Linked DNA regions of Homo sapiens. The protein of the gene in region 1 interacts with the protein of each later gene in a biochemical or structural test. Each region holds a gene or a part of one and is shown in the gene's direction. Other genes may lie near its edges.

Region 1 (3,748 bases):
CGCCCGAATCCTGCTGCCCGGCCCTGGGCCTGGCCCAGCTGGTGAGTGAGGAGCTGAGACCCCCTCAGGACAGAAGGCTCTAGGCCCATCTGGCCCCTGGCCTTGGCCCTGGCCACTGTGGCGAGACCACCTCATTTCCTGCCTATAGATCAGTAGGGGAAGGAGGAAAGGCCACAGTGGGGGTCTCGGCTCTGGGTGAGGGACTCCTGTGCTCGATACCCCCGTGCACAGAGCCTGTGGCCTCAGGACCCCGGCCGTGGGCAGAGCAGCTCAGGGCTCGGCACCTAGAGGCTCTCCGGAGGCAGCTGCATGTGGAGCTGAAGGTGAAGCAGGGGGCTGAGAACATGACCCACACGTGCGCCAGTGGCACCCCCAAGGTAAGGCCCCACAGTCTGATGGCAGGAGCACCCTGGCCCCTGGTCTGACAGGGAAATGCACCTCAGCCATTGGGCTCATAAGGAGACACCATTCCAGCCTGCAGCCTGATGGGGAAAATACAGCCCCAAACCCCAGCTGGGTGAGGAAGGCATGGCTGTAGTCTCTAGTGTGACAGAGAAGGCCTTGCCCTGGTCTAATGGGATCCTAGCCCAGCCCCAGTCCCAACTCCCAGCATGATGTCCAGAACTGGGCCTCAGTCCTTGTCTGACAAGAAGACTTGGCTGTGGCCCTGATATGATGACGGAGGCAGGACCTTAGCCTTGATCTAATGGGGGAGGCTTAGCTTAGCCCCTGCCCTGATCTGATGGGGGAGGCTTATCCCCAGCCCTGATCTGATGGGAGAGGCTTAGCTTAGCCCCTGCCCTCATCTAATGGGGGAGGCTTAGCTTAGCCCCTGCCCTGATCTGATGGGGGAAGCATCAACCCTGCTCTGATGGGGGAGGCATGACCACAGCCCTGATCTGATGGGGGAGAGTTAGCCCCAGCCCTGATCTGATGGGGGAGAGTTAGCCCCAGCCCTGATCTGATGGGAGAGGCATGACCCCAGCCGTGATATGAAAGAGGAAATTTGACCCCAGCCCTTGTTGGTCAGATGGAAAAGGCTCCCCTGACCCACCAACTAGTCCAACAAGGGAGGCTTGACTTTAGTGTTTGGCCTAGAGGTTTCACTTTAACCCTGTTTTGATGGGGGAGACCCGGCTCCAGTTCCTGGTCTGATGGGGGAAGCTGTGGCCCAGGCCTGGTCTGATGGGCCTGTGCTATGGCTCCATAGGAGAGGAAGCTCCTGGCAGCTGCCCAGCAGATGCTGCGGGACAGCCAGCTGAAGGTGGCCCTGCTGCGGATGAAGATCAGCAGCCTGGAGGCCAGTGGGTCCCCGGAGCCAGGTGAGGCCTTGAGACACAGGGAGGGCGGAGCAGGGAAGAGCAGGGCCTGAGAGCCGCCGTCCTTCCCACAGGGCCTGAGCTGCTGGCGGAGGAGCTACAGCATCGACTGCACGTTGAGGCAGCTGTGGCTGAGGGCGCCAAGAACGTGGTGAAACTGCTTAGTAGCCGGAGAACACAGGACCGCAAGGCACTGGCTGAGGTCAGGCCCCAGCCCTGGCCCTCTCCTAAGGCTGGCTTGTTCCCATACCACCCTCAGCAGGGGTGTGAAGGGAGGGTGGCCGTGTAAAAGCAGGACTTCTCTGTTGAGACTTCATGCGGAAGGTGGCTCCGGGTGACCTGGGCTGCTGCCCCCTGCCATATACCCCACGAACCTGGCTCTACGTTGTCCCCTCTGCAGGCCCAGGCCCAGCTACAGGAGTCCTCTCAGAAACTGGACCTCCTGCGCCTGGCCTTGGAGCAGCTGCTGGAGCAACTGCCTCCTGCCCACCCTTTGCGCAGCAGAGTGACCCGAGAGTTGCGGGCTGCGGTGCCTGGATACCCCCAGCCTTCAGGGACACCTGTGAAGCCCACCGCCCTAACAGGTAGTCAGAAGTTCCTCCCCCTTCAAAGCTCTCCTTCTTTTTGGGGGGAGGCCGGAAGCACAAACAACTCTGATGAAGAGTTCAAGAGTTCCAGTCCTGCCCCAGCACCCACTAGCAGCGTGACCTTGGCAAACTGACATTCCTTCTTCAAACCTCAGTTTATCCATCTGTAAAATGTGGATGATATAGCACCTACCTCATAGGGTTGCTGTGTTGCACGTGATGTGCTAAGCACAGTGCCTAGCACAGTCAGCACTCGGACAGCGTAGCTTGTATTTACATAAATAACCAGAATAATGCTTAAAGCACTGGTGTTAGGAAGCTCGCAGCCCTGGAAAGCTTGATACCCAGCACTGGGCAGCTTGGACTGTTAGAAAGTTTTCTAGGCTGGGCGTGGTGGCTCACGCTGGTAATTCCAGCACTTTGGGAGGCTGAGGTGGGTGGATCATGAGGTCAGGAGTTCCAAGACCAGCCTGGCCAAGATGGTGAAACCCTGTCTCTACTACAAATACAAAAATTAGCCGGGCGTGGTGGCGGGTGCCTGTAATCCTGGTTGCTCAGGAAGCTGAGGCAGAGAATTGATTGAACCCCGGAGGCGGAGGTTGCAGTGAGCCGAGATCACGCCACTGCACTCCACCCTGGGCGACGGGGCAAGACGCCGTCGCAAAAAAAAAAAAAAAAAAGGTTTTCTTGGGCCAGGCATGGTGGCTCATGCCTGTAATCCCAGCACTTTGGAAGACTGAGGTGGGCGGATCACCTGAGGTCAGGAGTTCAAGACCAGCCTGGCCAACATGGTGAAATCCTGTCTCTACTAAAAATACAAAAAAGTAGCTGGATGTGGTGGCACATGCCTGTAGTCCCAGCCACTCGGGAGGCTAAGGCAGGAGAATTGCTTGAACCCAGGAGGTGAGGTTGCAGTGAGCTGAGATTGCGCCGCTGCACTTCAGCCTAGGTAACAGGGCAAGACTCCATCTCAAAAAATAATAATAATAATTTCCTTGGAAAAAAAATAATAAAATTAAACTAAAATTGCTGGGTGCAGTGGCTCACACCTATAATCCTGGCACTTTGAGAGGCTGAGGTGGGAAGATTGCTTGAGCTCAGGAGTTTTTTTGAGACCCAGTCTCAAAAAAAAAAGAAAAAAAGAAAGTTTTCTTGGCTGGGCACAGTGGCTCAAGCCTGTAATTCCAGCACTTTGGGAGGCTGAGGTGGACGAATCATTTGAGCCCAGGATTTCTAGACGAGCCTGGGCAACATAGTGAAACCTCATCTTTAGAAACAAAAAAAATTAGCCGGGCGTGGTGGCGCATGCCTGTAATCCCATCTACTGGGGAGGCTGAGGCAAGAGAATTGCTTGAACCTGGGAGGCAGAGGTTGCAGTAAGCCAAGATTGCACTGTTGCACTCCAGCGTGGGTGACACAGCAAAACTCTTTCAAGAAAAAAAAAAAAAGAAAGAGTTTTCTGGTCTGGCTCAGTGGCTCATGTTTATAATCCTAGCAGTTTAGGAGGGTGAGGCATGTGGATCACTTGAGTCCAGGAGTTTGAAACCAGCCTGGGCAACATGACAAAGCTCCATCTCTACAAAAAATACAAAAATCGCCGGGCGCGGTGGCTCACGCCTGTAATCCCAGCACTTTGGGAGGCCGAGGCGGGCGGATCACGAGGTCAGGAGATCGAGACCATCCTGGCTAACACGGTGAAACCCTGTCTCCACTAAAAATACAAAAAATTAACCGGGCGTGGTGGCGGGCGCCTGTAGTCCCAGCTACTCGGGAGGCTGAGGCAGGAGAATGGCGGGAACCCCGGGGGGCGGAGCCTACAGTGAGCCGAGATCGCACCACTGC
Region 2 (3,748 bases), on another chromosome or scaffold:
TATAGCCATATTTTATTTTATTTTACAGTTATTTTATAACTAGTATTTCTAGCTCTTTGGATTTAACTTGGTTTTGAGTGTTAATCATAGGCAATAAAACTGTCCTCTAGGGATTGCCAAAGTTCAGGTAGATCATTGTTACTATTACTTCCACTTTATGAATGAGATGCTGGCAATGGAGATGCAAATTCTTTATAGATCTAGATCCCGTAAAGGAGAAACATGCAGCAGGTGCTTGATTAAGTGAAAACATTGCCAGTTGTTTTTTAGACTCCGAGCCCTGGGTAGCAAAGACCAGCTAAGATTTTGTATTATCCTCTGAAGTTTTGGAGTTCTTTCTCCATCACGGGCTTTGAAGGCTAGAGGGACAGATGAGAGTGGCTGAATATGTCTTGGCTTTGTAAAGCAGCAGAGTTTCTTTTGGGGGTAGCACTGAATGATTATCAGTGATTGTCTTTTCACTGAGTAATATAGCATTGAACAGAGAGGCCAAAAACCTGTTCTTGGTGTGATTCAGTAAGGTAAGTAAGTGGTTCATCCTCTTTGCCTTTCAAAGCAAGAGTAAAAAGGTCAGCACTGAGTTACATGCTTTAAAGCCTGTCACCCTTTTGTACTTGTTAGAATTAAACGTGGGCATTTTGCAATACATAAGCGCTTCTTGAATGGCATAAACTCTCAAAGGATGTTCGATGCCAACCTGCTTTGTTTAGGAGTAATTATGTTACTCAGAAAATCCTAATGGAACAAATGGATGTGGAGTTGGGTAGCAAAATATTTTCCCCAGATCCTTTGCTTTGCTTCAGTACCTTGTGAATAAAGAAAATCAAAGGCATTTCCTAATTATTTGTAAATGGTAGTAATTGACATTTTGAATATTACTCATACAAACATAAATGACAGCAAATTAAATTCAAACAAATTTTTATAGTTTTTATATAACATTGGCTGAAAAACATCCCTTCATTTTACTCCATTCTGTGTTCTTAGTTGGACTGAAAAAATTTGCATCCAGTCTGTAGTTCTCAATTCATTGACTTTGGCTTAAACCCTCCTTCCCTGCACTTAAATCATTAATGGACTTTTTTTTTTTTTTAAGAGCAGTTTTAGATTCACAGAAAAATTGAGTGGGAAGTGTAGAAAGTTCCCACATAGCGCCTCATACCTGTCCCTTCCAGTTGCCCCTATTTCTAACATCCTGCATTAGCATAGTACAGTTGTTATAGTTGATGAACCAATATCAATATAACATTATTAACTAAAGTCCATAATTTACATTAGGGCTCACTCTTTGTGTTGTACATTCTGTGGATTTTGACAAATGTATAATGACATATAAACACCATCATAGTAACATACAGAATACTTTCACTACCCTAAAAATCCTATGTGCTCCACCTATTCATCCCTCCCTCCCCACTAACCCCGGGCAACCACTAATCTTTTTACTGTCTCTCTAGTTTTACCTTTTCCAGAATGTCATGTAGTTGGAATTAAACAGTATGTGGCCTTTGCAGATTGGCTTTTTTTCACTTAGCAATGTGTACTGAAGGTTCTTTCATGTCCTCTTATGGCTGGGTAGCTCATTTCTTTTTATTGCTGAATAATATTCTGTTATCTAGATGTGCCATAGTTTATCCTTTCATCTATTGAAGGACATTTTGGTCGTTTCCAAGTTTTATCAATTATGAATAGAGCCGATATAAACATTTGCGTGCAGTTTATATGTGGAAATAAGTTTTTAACTCATTTGGGTAAATACCAAGGAGTATAATTGTTAGATTATATAGTAATGTATATATATATAAAATAAAATAGTACGTGTAGTTTTTTTTAAGAACTGTCAAACCGGCTTTCAAACTGATTATACTGTTTTGCATTCTCACCAGCAATGAATGAGAGTTCCTGTTGCTCTACATTCTGCTCAGCACTTGGTTTTGTCTGTGTTTTGGATTTTGACCATCCTACTAGGTGTGTAGTGGTATCTCATTTTAAAAAATTTAGCTATTTCCTTATGACATATGATGTTTGGCATCTTTTCATATTGCTTTCTTGCCATCTGCATATCTTCTTTGGTGAGGGGTCTTCAGATCTTTTGCCCATTTTTATTTGGGTTATTTCTCTTTGTCGAGGTTTGTTTGTTGTAAAATATACATAACACAACGGTTACCACTTTAGTCATTTTTAAGTATATAATGCAGTGGTTTTCAGCATGTTCACCATGTTGTATAATTACTATCTCTTTCGAGAACATTTTCATAATCTCAAACTGGAACTCTGTTCCCATTAAACAATAACTCCCCACTTTCCCCTCCCCCAACCCTAGTAACCTCTATTCTGCTGTCTGTATGAATTTACCTATTCTGTGTACTTCTTATGAGTGGAATTATACAATATTTGTCATAAATATCTGGCTTATTTCACTTAGCAAAATATTTTCAAGGTTCATCCATGTTAATAGCATGTGTTAGGATTTCATTTCTCTTCATGGCTAAATATCTTATTGTTGAGTTTTAATTATCAACAGCTGTCATTAGGAAAGACTATTCTTTCTCTTTTAAAGTCATAAAAATGTATTTTTTTCTTTCCATTTCGTTTCCCTTCAGTATGATCACTAACACTTGGAATTGACATACCAATTGATCATGGTTGTCTCTCACAAGAACACTATATTTATATTTATTCCTTTCAAAGCAGTTACTTGCTTCAGGTCAGCATGTTTTTGGGGGAATTTTTCATAAAAGGTTAATTGAATTATAATTTACATTCCATAAAATTCACCTTTTAAGATTTTATTTTTTATTGTTTTTATTATTTGTGGAGATGGGGGTCTCACTTTGTTGTTGCCCAGGCTGGTCTCGAACTCCTGGTCTCAGGTGATCCTCCCGTCTTGGCCTCCCAAAGTGCTGCGATTACAGGCATGAACCACGGCTCCTAGCCACTCACTTTTCTTAAGTGTATAATTCAGTGGTTTGTAGTTACAGAGTTATGCAACCATCATCCTAGTCCTGTTTTAGAACATTTTTAGCACCCCGAAAAGCTTTCTCATGCTCATTTGCAGGCACTGCATTTTTGCCTGAAGCCTCATACAACCACTGATCTACTACTTTCTGTCTCTATAGATTTCTCTTCCCTGAAAAATTAAGCTAAATGGAATCATATAATATGTAGTCTTATGCATCTGGCTTCTTTCACTAAGCATGCTGTGTTTGAGGCTCATCGTGTTGTAGCATGTATCAGTAGTTTGTTCCTTTTTATTGCTAGAAAATATTCCATTTTGTAAACCATAAGTTGTTTATCCATTCACCAGCTGATGATTTGGGTCATTTCCAGTTTTTTGCTCTTATGAATAATGCTGCTATGAATGTTTGCATACGTGTCTTCATGTGTATATATGTTTTCACTTCTAATTTCATTTTTTACCTAGGAGTAGAATTTTGCTGGGTTGTATGGTAAATTTATGTTTAAGTTTAATTTAAACTTGTGTTTATTTAAAAAAACCTACCATACTGTTTTCCATAACAGAAGCACCGTTTCACATTCCCACCAACAATGTATGAGGATTCTGATTTCTCCACATCCTCGCCAATACTTGTTGTTGTCTTTCTTTTTGATTGTAGCCACTCTAGTGGGTGTGAAGTGGTATCTCGTTGTGGTTTTAATTTGCATTATCCTGGTGACCAATGAGGATGAGCACCTTTTCATGTGTTTGTTGGCCATTGGTGCGTCATCTTTGCTGAAATGTCTATTC

What was found. The genes of interacting proteins can lie anywhere in the genome.
Region 2: the proteins of PKN3 (region 1) and ARHGAP26 form a complex in vitro, tested with the Homo sapiens proteins (one study listed by BioGRID).

Annotation. Positions count from the first base shown.
Region 1 is NC_000009.12:128,705,503-128,709,250, forward strand, and holds part of PKN3 (serine/threonine-protein kinase N3), read left to right. Parts: coding exon 1-41; intron 42-231; coding exon 232-377; intron 378-1,210; coding exon 1,211-1,322; intron 1,323-1,393; coding exon 1,394-1,521; intron 1,522-1,719; coding exon 1,720-1,903; intron 1,904-3,748.
Region 2 is NC_000005.10:142,773,336-142,777,083, forward strand, and holds part of ARHGAP26 (rho GTPase-activating protein 26), read left to right. Parts: intron 1-3,748. UniProt on the Homo sapiens protein: GTPase-activating protein for RHOA and CDC42. Facilitates mitochondrial quality control by promoting Parkin-mediated recruitment of autophagosomes to damaged mitochondria.